3 linked regions of the Homo sapiens genome follow. The protein of the gene in region 2 interacts with the protein of the main gene of each other region in a pairwise test. Each region holds a gene or a part of one and is shown on either strand. Other genes may lie near its edges.

Region 1 (7,116 bases), on a different chromosome or scaffold from region 2:
GCTGAGGTGGCAGGACTCTGCTGCAGAGACTGTGTTTGTAGCAAAGTGGGCTTTATAGGTCCCTGAGGGCAGGCAGCACGGCTGGGGCGCGGGGCGCGGGGCGCTGGGCGCGGGTGGCTGCCCCTAGGGCCTCGCGTTCTCAGGCTCCTCGCGTTCCTCCTTGGCTGTCCCCGGGGAAGGCTCTTGCGCCGGGTGCCTGTTGCCTGTGCCCGACTGCTCCGTGCCCGGGGCCTGGGGCTCCCCATCGTGGGCGCTGTCCAGGTCGGGGCCGGGTGGCCGGGGACGCTGCGGCACCAAGGGAGGTGGCGCAGGCCTGCGGGCGCCCGGCTGGTCTGGGGCATGCGGCATGGGTGGCCCGGAGGACTTGGCCTGGCGGGTGGGCAGGGGCGGCCAGCGGCGGAGGCTGCACGAGCCCCCCAGGTGCGGCCGCGGGTCGGCCTCACCGTTGTGCAGGAGCACGAAGCGGCGCTGGGACAGCAGAGGCAACATCTTCTGGCCGCGCAGGCTCTTCCGGAAGGTCTCGAGCACCAGGTCTGGTGCGGGTGGGGGAGAGAGGGTGAGTGGGGGGCAGAGGCTGGGGCTGGAGGGGGTGGGGAGGGTGTGAGGGGTGGGACCCAGGTGAGCTGAGGTGTGGGGAAGGTTGGGGCAGGGGGCGGCGCTGCCACACAGGCCCTCGGGAGGTGGAAGAGCCCCATCTGTGGGGGTCTGAACTTGGGAAGAGGGCAGGTAGGCATTCAAGACTGGGCAGGTTGTGGGGGTGTGGGGTGGGGGCTTGGAGGCTCACCCAGGGTCTCGATGACCACACCTGGGATGACCTCCTTCAGGACCTCGCAGTTGGTGTGCAGGGCTGGGTTAGAATTCATCTCCAGCAGCCATACCTGCCCCAGACGCCAGTCAGTCCCTCCTCACCCCGAGCCCACTGGGCCAGCAGGAGGCAGAGGCCCTGGTCCTCATTCAGACAGATGGCTCTGGGAGATTGCTTCCTTCCTATAGCCTTGCTCCCCTGTTTGTCCACTGAAGCTCTGAGGGTCTGAAGCTCTGGCCTGAGGGGGCTGCTCTGAGGAGGGGGTGCAGTTCCATCCTAGCTGCACAGGGGGTGAGCCTCATGGATACACCCATCCCCAGGGCTGCATGCAGGCAGGGTGGGGGCTGACTGCAGATTCTGCCTGGGGCCTGCCAGTGTGGTCAGGGTGTACAGATGGCCCCTGCCTCCTTGCATCTGTCTACTGTGCCCCCCGCCGCCCAGGACAGCACCTTGAAGTTGTCATCAATCAGGAAGTCACAGCCAATGAGGTCAAAGTAACCCAGCTTGCAGTCCAGCTTGGGCTTGGCGGCCAGAAAGCAGTGGGCCATGATCTGCTGCATCCGCTTCTGCAGGGAGGCAGGGAGGCATCCTGGCTGCGGCCCGTAGGCCCTGATCACACCCCAGGTCTGAACAGCCACAGCCACATCCCTCACCTGCACTCCCATCTGAACCCGCACCTGTACAGCCACACCTGCCCACACGTTCGTGCACTCAGCCTCACAGGTTCACAGCCAGAAACTCACTCAACAAACTCGTGCAGCTCCTGTCCTGTGTCAGGCACTGGAGATACGAGAGTGAGGAAAACTCACAGGAAATCTCTGCCCTTGAGCAGAAGAGACGGATAGCAAATGGGATACGTAAAATCTCGAATCTTGGTAAGAACTGTGAATTATGTTGTATTTTAACGTGCTCTGGTTTCATCCTCTGCTCCCCAGCTCAATGGTTGCCTCAAAAAACCAACAGCATGCATCCCCAGAACTGGAGATAGCAAAATAGACCTCATTTATAAAAAAAAATTGTCATTATTTGTTTTCTTATGTCTAGTAGTTCCTTGGAAGATCCCATTTGAAAGGACTAACAGAAAGTGTGAGGGCCAGGCACGTGGCTCACACCTGTAGTCCCAGCAGTTTGGGAGGCTGAGGCAGGAGGATTGCTTGAGCTCAGGAGTTTGAGACCAGCCTGGCCAACATGGTGAGACCCCATCTCTACTAGAAATACACAAGTTGGTCGGGCGCGTGGCTCACACCTGTAGTCCCAGCACTTTGGGAGGCTGAGGCAGGAGGATCGCTTGAGCTCAGGAGTCTGAGATCAGCCTGGGCAATATAGGGAGACCTTGTCTCTACCAAAAAATTAGCAAAATTAGCTAAGCGTGGTGGTGTATGCCTGTAGTCCCACCTACTTGGGAGGCTGAGGTGGGAGGACTGCTTGAGCCCAAGAGGCAGAGGCTGTGGTAAGCTGAGATTGTGCCACTGCACTCTAGCCTGGGTGACACAGTGAGACTGTCTAAAAAAAAGAAGTATGGGCCGGGCACAGTGGCTCACGTCTGTAATCCCAGCACTTTGGGAAGCTGAGGTGGGTGGATCACCTGAGGTCAGGAGTTCGAGACAAGCCTTGCCAACATGGTGAAACCCTGCCTCTACTAAAACTAAAAAAAAAAAAAAAAAAGTATGACGATGATGTCTTATCAAATAATAGAGAATACTGGTGAAGAGAGAAAAATTATAAAAGAGAATCAAATAGAAATTCTGAAGTTGAAAAGTAGAACAAAAGTAGAACAAATAAAACATGCACTAGAAGTGCTCAACAGCAGATTTGAATTGTTTGCAGATAGGCCAATTGAGATTATTTAGTCTGAGGAACAGAAAGAAAAAGGAGGCCGGGTGCAGTGGCTTCACACCTGTAATCCCAGCACTTTGGGAGGCCAAGGCAGGGGGATCGCTTGAGGTCAGGAGTTTGAGACCAGCCTGGCCAACATTGTGAAACCTCGTCTCTACTAAATATACAAAAATTAGCCAGATGTGATGGTGCGTGCCTGTAGTCCCAGCTACTTGGGAGGCTGGTAGGCCGGAGGATTGCTTGAGCCCAGAAGGAGGAGGCTGCAGTGAGCTGAGATTGCACCACTGCACTCCATCTTGGGTGACAGAAACCCTGTCTCAAAACAAAAAATGAAAGAGAGAGAGAGAGGGAAGAAAAATAAAGCCTCAGAGACTTGTGGGTGGGACACTGTCAAATGGACCAACATATGCATAATGGGAGTCCCAGAAGGAGAGAAGAGAAAGGAGCAGAAACAATATTTGAAAAAATAATGGCAGAAAACTTCCCAGTTTAATGAAAAACAACCTACACATTCAAGAAGCTCAATGAACTCAAAGTAGGATAAACTCAGAGATCCACCACCTCATCAGCAAACTTCCAAAAGACAGAGAACGTCGAAATCAGCAGGAGAGAAGCCGCTCGTTATGTATGAGGCATCCACAGAAAGATGAACAGCCAGTTTCTCATTAGAGGTCGTGAGGTGGGCAGGCAGTGGGATGGCACAAATTCCCAAAAGTAAAAATACTGTTGACCAAAAATTCTACATCTAGCAAAAGCTGCTTCAAAAATGAAGGGGAGATTAAGACATTCCCAGATAAACAAAGGTAGACCCGCCCTACCGTCCTTCAGGCTGAAATGAAAAGACACTAGACAGTAACTGGAACTCACAGGAGGAAATAAAGAGCCCCAGAAAAGGTCATTGTGTAATTAAATATAAGAGACAGCATACATGTATTTTTTTGTATGTGATTGTTTTGTCCTAAAAGACAACTGTATACAACAATAATTATGAATCCATGTTGATGGACACAAATATACTGAGCTGTAATTTGTGACAACAGCATGAGAGGGGTGGGGCTGTGTAGGAGGAGTGTTTTTGTATACTTTTAGGAGCAGTGTGTTTTTGTATGCTTTTGAAATTAACTTGGTATTAATAAAAAACTGAATTGTTTATTTTAAAACATTTTTTATTTTAGAAACAGGGTCTTGTTCTGTCACCTAGGCTGGGGTAATGTGGTTTGATTGTGGCTCACTGCAGCCTTGACCTCCTGGGCTCAAGTGATCCTCCCATCTCAGCCCCCTAAATAGCTAGGAGGACTACAGGTGCACACTCCCATGCTGAGCTAATTTTGTTTTTTAGAGATGGGGTCTCACTATGTTGCCCAGGCTGCTTTCAAATGCCTGGCCTCATATGATCTTCTTGCCTCAGCCTCCCAAAGCACTGGGATTACAGGCATAAGCCACCACACTCACCCTAATTGTAGTAAATTAAGATACAATATTAATGGTAATCCTCAGGACAACCACTAAAATAACTCAAAAACATATAGTAAAATAAATGACAAGGTAATTAAAATGCTACACTAAGCCAGGCGTGGTGGCTCACGCCTGTAATCCCAGCACCCTGGGAAGCTGAGGCGGGTAGATCACCTGAGGTCAGCAGTTTGAGATCAGCCTGGCCAACATAGTGAAACCCCGTCTCTACTAAAAATACAAAAAATTAGCCGGGTGTGGTGGCATGCGCCTGTAATCCCAGCTACTAGGGAGGCTGAGGCAGGAGAATCGCTTGAATCCGGGAGGCGGGGGCTGCAGTGAGCCGAGATCACGCCACTGCACTCCAGCCTGGGCAACAAGAGCGAAACTCCGTTTCAAAAAAAAAAAGCTACACTAGAAAATATCTCTCTAAAACAATAGGAGGCAGTAATGGAGAAACTGAGGAACAAAAAAAGACAGACATAGAAAACAAATAACAAAATAGCATATGTAAATCCTACCTTATCAGTAATTATTATTATTATTATTTTTTGAGACGGAGTCTCGCTCTGTCACCCAGGCTGGAGTGCAATGGCGCAATCTTGGCTCACTGCAAGCTCCGCCTCCTGGGTTCACGCCATTCTCCTGCCTCAGCCTCCCGAGCAGCTGGGACTACAGTTGCTCACCACCACGCCTGGCTAATGTTTTGTATTTTTAGTAGAGACGGGGTTTCACCGTGTTAGCCAGGATGGTCTCAATCCCTGACCTTGTGATCCACCTGCCTTGGCCTCCCAAAGGGCTGGCATTACAGGCGTGAGCCACCGTGCCCGGCCCTTTATCAGTAATTATATTAAATGTAAGTGAATTAAACTTTCCAATTAATAGACATTGACGGAGTTTCTTAAAAAAACATGATATACCATCTACAAAAGATACTTTAGTTTCAGAGACAAAAATAGGTGGAAAGTAAAGGGATGGAAAAAGATGTACCACACACGGTAACCAAAGTAGAACTGGAGTGTCTACACTCATACCAACTGGAGTGTCTACACTCATACCAACTGGAGTGTCTACACTCATACCAACTGGAGTGTCTACACTGATATGAACAACTGGAGTGTCTACACTCATACCAACTGGAGTGTCTACACTGATATCAACTGGAGTGTCTACACTCATACCAACTGGAGTGTTTACACTGATACGAACTGGAGTGTCTACACTCATACCAACTGGAGTGTCTACACTCATACCAACTGGAGTGTCTACACTGATATCAATTGGAGTGTCTACACTGATATCAACTGGATTGTCTACACTCATACCAACTGGAGTGTCTACACTCATACCAACTGGAGTGTCTACACTGATATCAACTGGAGTGTCTACACTGATACGAACTGGAGTGTCTACACTCATACCAACTGGAGTGTCTACACTCATACCAACTGGAGTGTCTACATTCATATCAACTGGAGTGTCTACACTTATACCAACTGGAGTGTCTACACTCATATCACAGAAAATAGACTTTACACAAAAATTATTACTGCAGATTAAAGGAAAATTTTTATAACGATAAACCAAGAAGATCTAATAATCATAAACATACACACACCCAACAACAGAGCCTCGAAATATACAAAAAACTGACAGATCTGAAGGGAGAAGTAGACAACTGAATATCCCGCTTTCAATACAGAGACAGAAGATTAACGAGTAAATAGAAGACTCGAACAACATTATAAACCAAACAGACCTAACAGACATGTTGGGAGCAGGCCCCCCCCCAAAATCTGGCCATAAACTGGCCCCAAGACTGGCCATAAACAAATCTCTGCAGCACTGTGACATGTTCACAATGGCCCTAACGCCCACGCTGGGAGGTTGTGGGTTGACGGGAATGAGGGCAAGGAACACCTGGCCCGCCCAGGGCGGAAAACCGCTGAAAGGCGTTCTTAAGCCACAAACAATAGCAGGAGCGATCTGTGTCTTAAGGGCGTGTTCCTGATGCAGTTAACTAGCCCAACCTATTCCTTTAATTTGGCCCATCCCTTCGTTTCCCGTAAGGGATACTTTTAGTTAACTGAATATCTATAGAAACAATGCTATGACTGGTTTGCTGTTACTAAATATGTGGGTAAATCTCTGTTCAGGGCTGTCAGCTCTGAAGGTTGTGAGGCCCCTGATTTCCCACTTCACACCTCTGTATTTCTCTGTGTGTGTCTTTAATTCCTCTAGCGCCGCCGGGTTAGGGTCTCCCCGACCGAGCTGGTCTCGGCACAGACATCTACAGAACACTACACCCAAAAACAGGATACACCTCCTTCTCCAGTGCACATGGATATTCTCCAGGATAGACCATATGCTGGGACATAAACAAGTTTCAAGTGTTTTTTGTTTTTGTTTTTTAATGATCCACTTAATGAATAGTAAGTTTGTTGTTTTTTTAAAGATGGGGTTTTGCTGTGTTGCCCAGGCTGGACTCAAACTCCTGGGCTTAAGCAATGTTTCCATCTCAGCCTCCTGAGTAGCTGGAATTACAGGTATGTGCCAACACACCAGCTCCAATAATTTTTCAATAATTTTTAAAGGGTTGAAATTATAAAGTATGTTCTCTGACACAATGGAATGAAATTAGAAGTCAATAACAGAAGGAAAATTGGAAAAATCACAAATATGTGGAAATTAAATAACAGGCCCTTAAGCAACCAATGGGTCAAAGAAAAGCTTACAAAGGAAATTTAAAATACTTTGCAGCTGAGCATCATGGCTCACGCCTATAATCCCAGCACTTTGGCAGGCGGATCACCTGAGGTCAGGAGTTCAAGACCAGCCTGGCCAACATGGTGAAACCCCCATCTCTACTAATAATACAAACAAAATTAGCCAGGCGTGGTGGCAGGTGCCTGTAATCCCAGCTACTCGGGAGGCTGAGGCAGGAGAATCGCTTGAACCCGGGAGGCAGAGGCTGCAGTGAGCTGAGATTGCGCCATTACACTCCAGCCTAGGTGACAAGAGCG
Region 2 (7,116 bases):
AGTATGTTACACTTGTATTTAATAATGTAATTACTAATTCCTAATTAAATATGGAGACTAAAAAAATAATGGTGTGTGGAATCTTGTCCTTTTTCCTGATATGTCTATGCTCCCCTCCTTTTTCCTAATAACTTGTATGGGTGAGATATATGTAAAAGAAAAATCCAAGTAATCATTGTTCTCAGAATTAAGATGGTCTGTCCATGACTTCAGCAATGACAAGTCCAACACTTAACTTGGGTAAAGATTTAGGGTTGACAATATGATTTACATTTTGTTTATCAATTTACCCAGTTACATTTCTACTTTTGAAATATAGCCAGTGGATCAATGTATTTATATCTATTTGATTTTTATTTACTTTGAATCTACCTTTTGCTTCAGATAAAAAACCTGTCATTCACTAACTCCAATGCTTCAGTTTCAGTATGACAAAAGAAGTGTGACTTCCATTTTACTCTGATGCTATATAACTGATTTCTAACCTTTCAGCCTGCCTAGGGTAGTTAAAAGACGAGTGAATGCTCTCAAAAACCTGCAAGTTAAATGTGCACAGATAGAAGCCAAATTCTATGAGGAAGTTCACGATCTTGAAAGGAAGTATGCTGTTCTCTATCAGCCTCTATTTGATAAGGTAATGCTTTCTCCTACTTTGTTTAATTTAACATTCTAGAAGACGAATTCTAGAAACATAAGCAGACTTGGAAGAGGTTAATCTTTAGAACTCTCATTGAAATTGTTATTAGAGGCAGCACTTGGAGGAACTATCAATAATAGCAGTTAAAGTTGTGGTATGCATTTGTTAAATTTGTAAGACTTCTTAGTGAGAAACCACTGGTTTTAGCTTGGATGCCAGTGTTTTTATACAGCCTTTTTTTTTTAAATCATTTTAGCGATTTGAAATTATTAATGCAATTTATGAACCTACGGAAGAAGAATGTGAATGGAAACCAGATGAAGAAGATGAGATTTCGGTTAGTACCAACTTTATTTTGGTATGTTTTTAAGATGATAAAATCTTAGGACTTGTCAGAAATGTTAGCATTTAATGATGGAGTACAATATTATATAACCAGTTGTATTTTTTCATTTTTTAATTTTACGTCTTTATTACACGTTTTTCTATTACTTTATTTTTAAAAAACAGTCATTCAAGATTGTAATTTGCATGGCAATAAGCAGCGGTTTCATGGGTTCTAAGTTTCTTAAGTGTCCACAGCAGTTTAAAACACCACAAGTCTTATTTCCAATTTGCAGCACCTGACTTAAAGTTCGAATTCATCTGATGGAGCATTAAAACTGTCATTTTCTCTTGTGAAAAGACATAATTGCTATTTCCAGGACTGTATATTGAACATGGTTGTACATTATTTTTAATTGGTTAGTAGAATTTTACTCATGTAATTTATATCCAGAATAAGAACCTCTAGCATCTCTGAATGGCCTTCCTCTCAGAACGATGATGATTAAATGTCTAAAATGTATCTGGGGTGCCCCCACTTGACATTACCAAACATGTTTCCAAATAATCTTAGAAAATATGATTCTTTAAACATATGCATACCACATCTTTAAACATAAACATACCACACAGTGCACCATCACTTCCTTAACCATTTTCCAATTGTTCACTTATAACATTTGCAATTTTTTATTATAAATCATATTGTGATGAATACTTTCATCCATAAGTTTTATTGCAAGGCTTATTGTTTCTTCTAATGTCTTCTAATTTCAAAGAAGTGGCTTACTGGTTCAAACAGTGCACATACGTGGTTTTAAGGCTTTTAGTATACTTTACCAAATAATCTCCAGAATAGCTCCAACAACTCCTACCAACAGTATGTTATTGTGCCCATAGGGTGGACTTGATAACAGCAAAGCAAATTCAACCACAGATATATTAGATTCTCACCCATCTCAAAACTATCACATCAGAGAAGCAAGGAGACATATTATTGGTGAGGAAGCCAAATTCAAATTCTTTTAAAAAATCACTCAGCTTTAGATCAGTAAAATAATCAACAAAAATGGTCACCGCAAAGTCTACCGGGTTTTTCAAAAAATAAAAAGAGAGAAAGAGAAAGGCCAGGCGCAGTGGCTCATGCCTGTAATCCCAGCACTTTGGGAGGCCTAGGTGGGCCAATCACTAGGTCAGGAGTTCGAGACCAGCCTGGCCAACATGGTGAAATCCCATCTCTACTAAAAATACAAAATATTAGCTGGGTGTGGAGGCGGGTGCCTCTAATCCCACCTACTCGGGAGGCTCAGGCAGGAGAATCACTTGAACTCGGGAAGTCGAGGTTGCAGTGAGCCGAGATCGCACCACTGCGCTCCAGCCCAGGCGACAGTGTGAGACTCCGTCTCAAAAAAAAAAAAAAAAAGTACCAAATAACCAAAATTTTTTATTTGACTAAATTCTGTTCATGTATGAGCATGACAGTCTCTCCTGTTTATTTGACTTTGGCAATAAAAAAATAAGCAGCCTTGTACAGAACAGGGAAAATGCCAAGAACGAAGGCAGTCTACAGTTTTACTGTAGAATACATATATATATATATATATATATATATATATGTAGGCCTCTCTCCCTTTGGCCATATCTACTGTCAGTTCAGGCCATTAACTACAGACAAATTTTCAAATTCACTTCTTCTCCAAGATCTTCGATGCTGTCATCATCTACTTCTGTCTGTTTTTCCTGAATGACCTCAATTATGTCATCTGTAAAGTCTCCTTGAATGATAATTTCATCCTCCTCTGTTACTGAGGCACCACAGGAGAATTTTTGAGCAAAAAATCTTTGTGTGATTTAAGATCAATTTCAAAAGTTACAAGGCCACAACCCTTGTCACATATTTCTTTGCTCTGGGAATTTTGGCTATAGTAACCTTTTGTGGTACCGTCTTTGTTTTTTTGTTTTATTTGACCCCTTCCACCTCTCTTCTGTTTTTTCTTCTCCTCTTCTTCCCCTGCTGTTCCTTGACCTTGACAGATTCCAGCTTCTTGTTTGGGTGAATTTTCCACAGTAAGTTTTGCATATTCATTTGGAAAATTCTTCTCTAATCATTGTCTACATTTAGCAACATCAGGCATATATTCACAGTACTCTATTGGTAATGAACAGACTCCACAATAAAGGACTCAAAGTAGGTAATCAGCATCTAACTTGGCTCTGTTCCTTGGGTCTCCTTTGCAGTCAGCCCTATTGGAATCGGAAACGTCAGCAGCCATTTCACAAACCCAGGCAGTTGCACAGGCCCCGCCAGCTCTGCTCCCGCCACTGTTGCCAGCTGAGCCGACAAATGCAACTCGTTTCCCCGGCCAGGGCCTCCCTAGAGCATCAGTTGTATTTTTATACCTAGGAAATATTTTTCCTTTTTGTAAGAATGATAATGCAGATGAACTGTTATTCAACCTGGCACCACCATCTGTACTCAAAAAGTCATTATTTCCTTACATTTTATAGTTTTTTTGTTTAAGAGACAGGGACTTGCTGTGTTGCCCAGGCTGGAGTACACTGGCATGATCTTGGCTCACTGCAGCTCATTCCTGGGCCCAAGCTATTCTCCCACCTCAGCCTCCCAAGTTGCTAGGACTATCTGAAGCTACTATGCCCAGCTTAATCTACTTTTTTTTGTAGAGGCAGAGTCTTCTTGCCTAGGCTGGTCTTAGACTCCTGGCTTCAAGCAATCTTCGCACCTCAGCCTCCCAAACTGTTGGGATTATGGGCTTGAACCACTGAGCCACTGTGCCCAGCCTATTTTTATAGTTTTTTTGAGTCTCTGTTGCCCAGGCTGGAGTGCAGTCTCGGCTTATTGCAACCTCCACCTCCTGGGTTCAAGCAATTCTTCTGCCTCCTTCTCCCAGTAACTGGATAACAGGCGTGCGCCACCATGCCTGACTAATTTTTTGTACTTTTAGTAAAGATGGGGTTTCGCCATGTTGGCCAGGCTGGTCTCCAACTCCTGACCTTAAATGATCCACCCACCTCACTTCCCAAAGTGCTGGGATTACAAGCGTGAGCCACTGCGCCTGGCTTACAGTTTTTAGTTTGTAGATTCATTATATTCTTTTTTTTTTTTTAACTTCATGGTAGGCTGAGGATTGTTGCCATTTTCAAGTGAAGACATGGAGGCTTCTAAGTGACTTGCCCACAATGAATAATGGCAGAGCTGTGACACACATTCAGTGCTGTGTTAAGTGTTCCACCTCTCTAGCATTGCTATTTTATGTTGTTTGGTAAAGAGAATATAATGTTTTGATTAAGAACACCATGGGGTGAGGCAATGGACCAAATTAGTATTTCTGTTGCTTTTCTTGTTTATTATGCTTAAGTCTTCATTTTTAATTAGTTTTTACATTTTTTTTTTACTAAAATGGTTTTTCCTACACATCTTGGTCACCTTAGTGGTTCTCTTTGGAGGGGTGTGGTAGCAGTAATTTTGATGGGATTAAGGTTTGTTATGGGCAACGGCGGTGTTTACACAGATAGACTAGAACTTTGAAGGTAATATCTGGTGACTGTGCTTTTTGGTTTTTATACCTTTGCTACTTTATCATGAGGTCTAATCTATGTATTAAATAATGTTTGCTGTCACTTAATCAAGGAGGAATTGAAAGAAAAGGCCAAGATTGAAGATGAGAAAAAAGATGAAGAAAAAGAAGACCCCAAAGGAATTCCTGAATTTTGGTTAACTGTTTTTAAGAATGTTGACTTGCTCAGTGATATGGTTCAGGTAATTTTATTCATAAATGTACCAGTTTACTTTGAAGGGTAAACCTTTGAAGTTTAAATGGCTGTGATCACTGTTCTCTTCAGTGTTGATCTTTCTAGAATGATTGCTTACTTTTGAAATAGCTAATATCTGTAGAAGAGAAATTACAGCTTTGATTAATGTAATCAAATAAATTAGTTTATTTTAAAAAATGAGATAATGAAATGGTCCCATTGATAATGGCTCATTATCGACTGGTGTTTTCTTATAACCCTGTGCCTTTTGTCTTTACATACTTAGTATGGAAGTATGATGGGAAAGTTAATCTTATAGCTGCAATTATGCAATTCCCTTAACTCTTCCAGGAGAAATTTGCATTTTAAAAGAATACCATAAAGATGTTAAACTCATTCACAATGGTTACATTCTCTGGCAAACCATAACTGTTGTCACCTTTGGGAAACTGCCTCAAGCATTTCTTGAGTGAGCCCCTACCGTCTACATTGTAGTAGTACATGTTGCCCTGTCTTGTCATTGTTGGAAGTTACATGGAGAAAAAGAAATGATCTTCACACAATTACTGCTTATTACAATTCTACTTTAGCAAAGTGGAAAAGGAACGACCAGGAGGAAGGGGACAAGCAGCTGGAAAAGGCAGCAATTACAATCAGGAAACATTTTAAAAGTAGATATGCCTTATTTAGACTTGATTTTGGATTTTTCAACCTATATAATAATTCAGTTGTCTATTTGGACACTTTTTCTCTACCAGTGGCAGTAGAACTACAGTATAAATTAGCTTTAGTATAAGCCATAACCTGGAGAGTAAGTCTTAAGGTTCATAATTGCTATACAAAACTACTTTGAAATATATTATGTCTCAGTCAGCTGGTGTTTGTGTAGTAACAGAACACAGTCCTCGAATGCCATGTTATTCATTTTTATTATTTTTTTAATTTGAAGGAACACGATGAACCTATTCTGAAGCACTTGAAAGATATTAAAGTGAAGTTCTCAGATGCTGGCCAGCCTATGGTAAAAGAACTTTGAAATATTTATAATTTTGTAACATGCTTACAGGTAGATAAATAGAAGCTTTTAAAAAGATAACATTCAAGGGTAAGGTTGGTGCTCTTTGTTATAGTGAATAAATATTTGGATGCTGCTAATTGTGAGGCAGTATTTATTCCTTTTCCTCCTTCTGATCATAAATTGTGTTTGAAACACAGACAATCCTTGTTCCTGGATAAGTGGATAAAAATAATGCCAAGGGAACATGAATAAGTACTTTTTCTGCATTAAAAGGCATGAGCTTGGGAATTACACAAAACTGATGTTAGAGGATGCCCACTCCCTAATGAGGAAAGATCAGCCAACAAGCTGTCCACCAAACCACCAGAATTAATGTCAACTAAGGGCAAAACTGCTAAGAATATAGGCTGTAGATGCTTAAGGTTGGGCTTTTTCTGTGTCAAGTTCACGTTTAGTCTACTATTTAAAAGCCTGATTCCTCCAGTAGTTGGGGAGTAAGGGAGGCAACATGGTCACTTTATTCAGGAATGCCTAGCCTGTTGTGTAAACATGTTAATTATTTAATAGATGTAAATTGAAACTAAGTTCTATTCAGTTCAATTTGTACCTCATTATTATTTTAACGTAATTTTTTTGATTTTAACATAATTTGGGGCTCATCTGACAGTCTGTCCCATTCTTAAATATTTCATGGCTGGGTGCAGTGGCTCACACCTGTAATCCCAGCACTTTGGGAGGCCGAGGTGGGTGGATCACTTGAGGTCCGGAGGTCAATACCAGCCTGTCCAACGTGGTGAAACACTGTCTGTACTAAAAATACAAAAATTAACTGGGTGTGGTGGCACACACCTATAATCCCAGATAATTGGCAGGCTGGCGCACCAGAATCACTTGAATCTGGGAGGCAAAGGTTGCAGTGAGCTGAAATTGTGCCCCTGCACTCCGGCCTGGGCAACAATGCAAGACTCAGTCTCAAAAAGAAGATTGTATTTCAGAGTAGAAAAAAAAATTATCATTTAGAATATTTATAAAAACAGATGAAGCTGTGTTTACTAAAGTACTGAAATATGTGAGGTAGGTATTTAACTGATTTTTATGCTTCCTCTCCCCAGAGTTTTGTCTTAGAATTTCACTTTGAACCCAATGAATATTTTACAAATGAAGTGCTGACAAAGACATACAGGATGAGGTCAGAACCAGATGATTCTGATCCCTTTTCTTTTGATGGACCAGAAATTATGGGTTGTACAGGGTGAGTTTAATTTTACTACCTTAACAAAATGTTTTTTCTGTTTTTGTTATACTTGATTTGTATACTCGGTTATTTTCAGTTACATATGTACATAGTCTGTCTCTGAACATTTTG
Region 3 (5,444 bases), on a different chromosome or scaffold from region 2:
ACCTTTGATCTTAGGTCGATGGGCCTCACTGGGAGCTTCGGCTTGGCCTCTCATGGACCTGGTGCTTATTTTCTTTCCTTTTTACTTACCTACGTCATTGTAGTGTTGACCTAACAAGCACTTTGTTTTCCTGTTGACACACTTCTCTGTTCCTTGGGAGATTGGAGAGGGGTCAGTGCTACTTTTGCCATCCTCAGCAGTGTCAGGGGCCCTAAAGGTCTAGAAGTAGAAGCCCTAGTCCCTCCTGTTGAGTGGTGCTCTAGGGAGGTAGAAGGCCATCTTTGTTTTGCCCAAATGTATACCTCTTCTTTTTCCCATTCTTCTCATGCCTCCCTGACTGGCTCTCATCTTTTTCAGTGGCCCCCTTCTGCTTGCCCACACATGTAGGCGGCTCTCAAAAGTTCTCGTGGCCTCTTTTTCACATTACATGCTTCCTCTGGATGTCTTATCTAACAATACAACATGGACTTTCTGCGGAAATGATTCCCAAGCCTTTATTTTCCCATTAGTTGCTAGGTGTACATTTTCAGATGCTGGTTTGCCATCTCTTGAGGTAGCATATTTCAAAGCCAGATCACCCCGCTTACTCTTGGATCTCCCCTCTTCCTCTTGTTGAGAGTTGGAAGCAGAGAATGGGTAGTATCTCTATATCCCTTTTCCTTTGCTAATTTGCCCTTTTTTGGAACATTTGTTAACCCTAGTCATTCTCTGCTAAAGGAGGGCTTGACTAGAGCTACTTAACGAGAGTTTAGTGCATACCTATCCTATGGAAGCCAGTGTGTTGAGCCCTTCTTAGGGCTGCCAAAGAAATGGATGCTCCTATGCCCAGGCTCAGTCAGGGACTTGGGAGATACTATACTTGGGATGGGAGTAAGTGGAATGCCAGCTGCCATGCATAATGCAGTGGTGTTCATGGTGGTTGGTCAGCCCACACTGTATCAAGCTCTGCAGATTTTTACTCTGTTAATGCACATATTACCTCATTAGTCTTGGCCTTCCTGGGGAGTTGTATGTAACATGTATTTTCTCTCTCATAGTGATTGACGACACAACCAAAGAGGTGGTGTATAGGGATTATATTGACATCAGTGTTGCAGTGGCCACCCCACGGGTATGTTGGGGCAGGAGGTGGGGAATGTTGGTCTTAGACCCTCACCTTATCTGTGTGAAGGAGATCACACAAGAGAAATCATTTCTTTAATTCTGTATTTTTAGAAGGGAGTTAGTAAAAGTAACCTTTTTTTTCTTTTAAACCATGCCGCATTCTTTTAACACTTTCTGTTAATCACACTGAGTAATGAAGGTATTCTAGGGAGGGCATACCATGGGTTGAATCAAGGGAGTTGTTAACTATAAAAGGTACTATTAATTTGCAACTGAAAACAGCTTTTCACCCCCTTCAGGGTCTGGTGGTTCCAGTCATCAGGAATGTGGAAGCTATGAATTTTGCAGATATTGAACGGACCATCACTGAACTGGGAGAGAAGGTAAAGTAGAAAGATGTATACAAGCTGCTAAGCAGGCGAGGGAAGAGAGCCTTCAGAAGGCTGGGCTCACTAGCAAGCAGTGCTCATGGAAAGTCAAGTGCATAGCCCCTGAGAAAAGCAGTTGCCCATGAGAGCTAAGTATTTTATATATCTGGTGGAGTTTACCATGCTCTGGTAACTGAAATCTCATCAGATGAGACCTGCTAGAAAAGATCATCTTTGAAGTCTTCAACTGTATGAAATTGTGCCTTTTCTCTGGTGGAGCACTGGTCATAGACACCTTAGCCGAACAACTGTCACACGGAAGCTAGCGCTTGTGCCATCGATCTCGATACAAGCTTTCTGGACTTCCTTTGCTTTTTTGTTTTTAGAGGCAGGGTCTCGCTGTGTTGCCCAGGCTGGAGTAGAGTGGTAGAGTCATAGCTTACTGCAGCCTTGCACTCCTGGGCTCAAGCGATTCTCCTGCCTCAGCCTCCCAAGTAGCTGGGACTACAGGTGTGCACCACCATGCCTGGCTAATTCTTAAGTTTTTTATACAGATGGGGGTCTCACTATGTTGCCCAGGTTGGCCTTGAACTCCTGGCCTCAAGCAGTCCTCCTGCCTCGGCCTCCCAAAGCGCTGGGATTATGGACTGACTTTAGGTGAAGGAAACTGGGTTGGCTTGATATTTCAATTATGAAATCTGTTTTTAGGCCCGAAAGAATGAACTTGCCATTGAAGATATGGATGGCGGTACCTTCACCATTAGCAATGGAGGCGTTTTTGGCTCGCTCTTTGGAACACCCATTATCAACCCCCCTCAGTCTGCCATCCTGGGGATGCATGGCATCTTTGACAGGCCAGTGGCTATAGGAGGCAAGGTAGGAACCGTCACTTCTAAGGTCCTAGTGGCTAGGTCTCGATGAAAGGGAAATCCAACTAAATGCTAATTGTAAAACATTAACTATAATTTCAGGCCTAAGTTCCATTTCTTAGTTTCTAATAGCTAAGGCACTGATTATCAAATTGTGGTCTGGATCAGCATCATCTGGGACCTTATTAGAAATGCATATTCTTAGACCCCATCCCAGACTTAAAGAAGAAGTGCAGATGATCCTGATGCATATTCAAGTTTGAGAACCACTGAGCTGAGGAGGCTTGTTTGCTTCTATGGAGTGGGGGATATAGTTGGAAACGTGGTCCCTTGCCCCTGGGAAACAGATGACAATTATGCATGTCAGTCTGTGAGCTGCCAAGTTGTATGATAAAGCTTGTAAATTTCCCGGGAGTTCAGAGAATTAAGTATTAAAAGGGGCTTGAGCTGGCCCTTAGAAGATACGTTGGTATCAAAAAAGCTTTCTGGGAACTCCTGTGTTTAGAATCCTTTTGGGTTACTGACTCCTGTGTGAAACCACAGTCTGTAGATCTTCCTGGAAAATGCCCATACACCCAGCTACACATACAATTCCAGAATTTGTAGACCCTGGCTTAATTTTTTTTTTTTTTTTTAAATTCTAACCCCAGAGAGAAGCAAGTACAGGCAGCCAGAACTGAAGGGAAAACTTTCCTTGTAGGCAGCAGATGCGTTAGAGGGCAGAGTATGTTTTTAAAAAATAAAAGGCAGTTGTGAGAAGACAGTTTTCTTGGCAAACTTTGTTTCTGAGTGGGGAAGCTTTGCACTGAGGGTAAGTCCTGGTCTTTGAAATACTGTAAATATGCAGAGGCAACATCAATAGGAAAGGCTCTGGAATTAGGAACTTTCTTATGGGCTGTGCTAAATCTCCTTCAGCGAGGCTGGCTGTGGCTTGCTGGAGACAAACCTATTTACCTTTCCTCTCTGTAGGTAGAGGTGCGGCCCATGATGTACGTGGCACTGACCTATGATCACCGGCTGATTGATGGCAGAGAGGCTGTGACTTTCCTCCGCAAAATCAAGGCAGCGGTAGAGGATCCCAGAGTCCTCCTCCTGGATCTTTAGGAGGAACCCACACACCCTACAAGTTGATCATGCAGGAACTGAAAACCAGTCTTCTCCCTGTCCCCTCATGGGTCCCGGGTTAGCCTGGTGACAGGCAGACACATGCTGTTGGCCTCAAGCAAGGAAGCAGAGCACTGTGTAACCAGCAGTCACAGGTCTTTTCTTGGCGTTCCTGCCAGGCTCTCCCTCTCTGCACCTGTCTCATAGCCTCGAATATCTTAATTCCTTAGGCTTAAGAGAGAGAGCCTTAATGGATGCTCATTCATATTCCTGCCTTTCTTCCATCAGCTCTCTGCAAAGATGATTTTGCTTTTCCCTAGTGCTGGTATACTATAGAGAAACCCCTGGGGACCATGTGATTAAGTTCCTATCTTTTGAAAGTTTGTTCTGCAGAGACTTCTAGGAGGATGCTGTGCCTCCCAAGCTCAGAGCAGCCTCTGTCCTGGCTGTGCACATTCTCCCTTGATTCCACTTGTGTGGAGGGATTGAACACAGGCAAAGAGGTGCTGCTTTGCTTCTTCAATGGCACCTTCATTCTCCGTTGTCATTGACTTCAAGATGCCTCTTCTACCTCTTCCAGGAAGCACAGGCCAGGGGATCTGGGTGTGTGAGTGGGAGGAGAGGGCAGAGGTCCCCTGAGGTCATGCATTGTAATCATCATAGAAGGAGAGCCCAGGCCTGCCCTCACGCTCTCCATCATAGGCTGACACCAAGAAGACTCGTCTTGGCACAATCTCACACAGCTGGGGCTGTAGCAACCCTTTCCAACCCCTTTGCTGGTTGCTGGGCCTCATTCTAGCACCTTGTTCTTAGAGCAGATTCTAGCACATCATGGCAGTGGGACCAAGCGTGGTCCCGAGGAAGGGCCAGAGCCTGGTAGAGACTAGGGAAGGGAGGTCTCCTCTAGACTGACTCACATTGCCTTGAGCTTTTCAGTTAAGTTGCTGTAAGCACCTGGGCTGAGGAGGCAGTTTTTGTTCCTTCCTGCGTTATAGCGGGGCCTTGTCTCTTCCTCTGCAGGACACAGATCTGGAGGACGTGGACTGGGGTAGGAAACCACCCTGAGGGTGTTAGTACCTAGTGGTGAAACGGATGAGGTCATTTCTAAGGTGTGTTGCCCGTGGATCTGGGCACAATCATTGGAATTCCTTGGAGCCACTGGGATTCATGGCTTTGTATCCAACTGCATCCAGGCCTGAGGCTGCTGACGTTTGACACCAGGGCCAGTAGAGAGTGCCCTTTTGTATCTTAAGCCAAGAAGTGAGGCCTGGGGGTGGGGGAGGGGGGAAGGGGTGGGAGCCAATACTGAGTGCCTGCAGCATCTACTACTCTGTCTTCACTATTCAGAACTTGTAACTAAAGTATTTAAAGAAACTGATTTTAAATGCAAATTAAAGGGCAGATATTCTCAAACAGGGTTCCTGTATCTGTTCCTTTTGGCTACTGAGGTGGTACAAGTCCCCAGCACTGTTGCACTGAAATTATTGAAAGCCACTCAAGGTCCTGTTGCTTATTTTGTGAAATCAGAAATCCCTTATGTGGAACTTAACACTCATAATTTGACAGAAGGTAGAACCCTGACTGCCAGCCGGGAAAGTGTTGCCAAAAAGAGTCAACCTCTGTAAAAATATTTGAAGAGATTTATTCTGAGCCAAGTGTGAGTGACTGATGGCCTGTGATACAACTCTTAGGAGATCCTGAGAACATGTGTCCAGGGTCGTCTGGCTACAACTTAGTTTTATACATTTAATACATTTTAGGGAGACATAAGATACCAGTCAGTACATGTAAGATGTACAGTGGTTTGGTCTGGAGAGGCAGGACAGCTCAAGACCTGGGGATGTTGTCATAGGCAGAATCAAAGATTTTCTGATTGGCAATTGGTTGAAAGAGTTATTATCTAAAGACCTGGAATCAATAGAAAGGAATGTCTGGGTTACAGTAAGGGGTTGTGGAGACCAAGGTTTTATGCAGATGAAGCCTCCAGCCAGCAGGCTTC

Evidence for each region.
Region 1: the proteins of NAP1L1 (region 2) and TTLL10 interact in binary tests that used the Homo sapiens proteins (3 or more experiments, as listed by UniProt).
Region 3: the proteins of NAP1L1 (region 2) and DLST interact in binary tests that used the Homo sapiens proteins (3 or more experiments, as listed by UniProt).

The regions. Positions count from the first base shown.
Region 1 is NC_000001.11:1,190,855-1,197,970, reverse strand, and holds the end of TTLL10 (inactive polyglycylase TTLL10), read right to left. Parts: intron 3,365-7,116; coding exon of another isoform or gene 3,263-3,364; exon of another isoform or gene 2,936-3,262; intron 1,372-2,935; coding exon 1,255-1,371; intron 879-1,254; coding exon 785-878; intron 534-784; coding exon 124-533; 3' UTR 35-123; downstream 1-34. UniProt on the Homo sapiens protein: Inactive polyglycylase.
Region 2 is NC_000012.12:76,053,656-76,060,771, reverse strand, and holds part of NAP1L1 (nucleosome assembly protein 1-like 1), read left to right. Parts: intron 1-492; coding exon 493-634; intron 635-893; coding exon 894-974; intron 975-4,610; coding exon 4,611-4,739; intron 4,740-5,681; coding exon 5,682-5,753; intron 5,754-6,862; coding exon 6,863-7,002; intron 7,003-7,116. UniProt on the Homo sapiens protein: Histone chaperone that plays a role in the nuclear import of H2A-H2B and nucleosome assembly.
Region 3 is NC_000014.9:74,898,886-74,904,329, forward strand, and holds the end of DLST (dihydrolipoyllysine-residue succinyltransferase component of 2-oxoglutarate dehydrogenase complex, mitochondrial isoform 1 precursor), read left to right. Parts: intron 1-1,037; coding exon 1,038-1,111; intron 1,112-1,403; coding exon 1,404-1,487; intron 1,488-2,180; coding exon 2,181-2,348; intron 2,349-3,310; coding exon 3,311-3,445; 3' UTR 3,446-4,858; downstream 4,859-5,444. UniProt on the Homo sapiens protein: Dihydrolipoamide succinyltransferase (E2) component of the 2-oxoglutarate dehydrogenase complex. The 2-oxoglutarate dehydrogenase complex catalyzes the overall conversion of 2-oxoglutarate to succinyl-CoA and CO(2).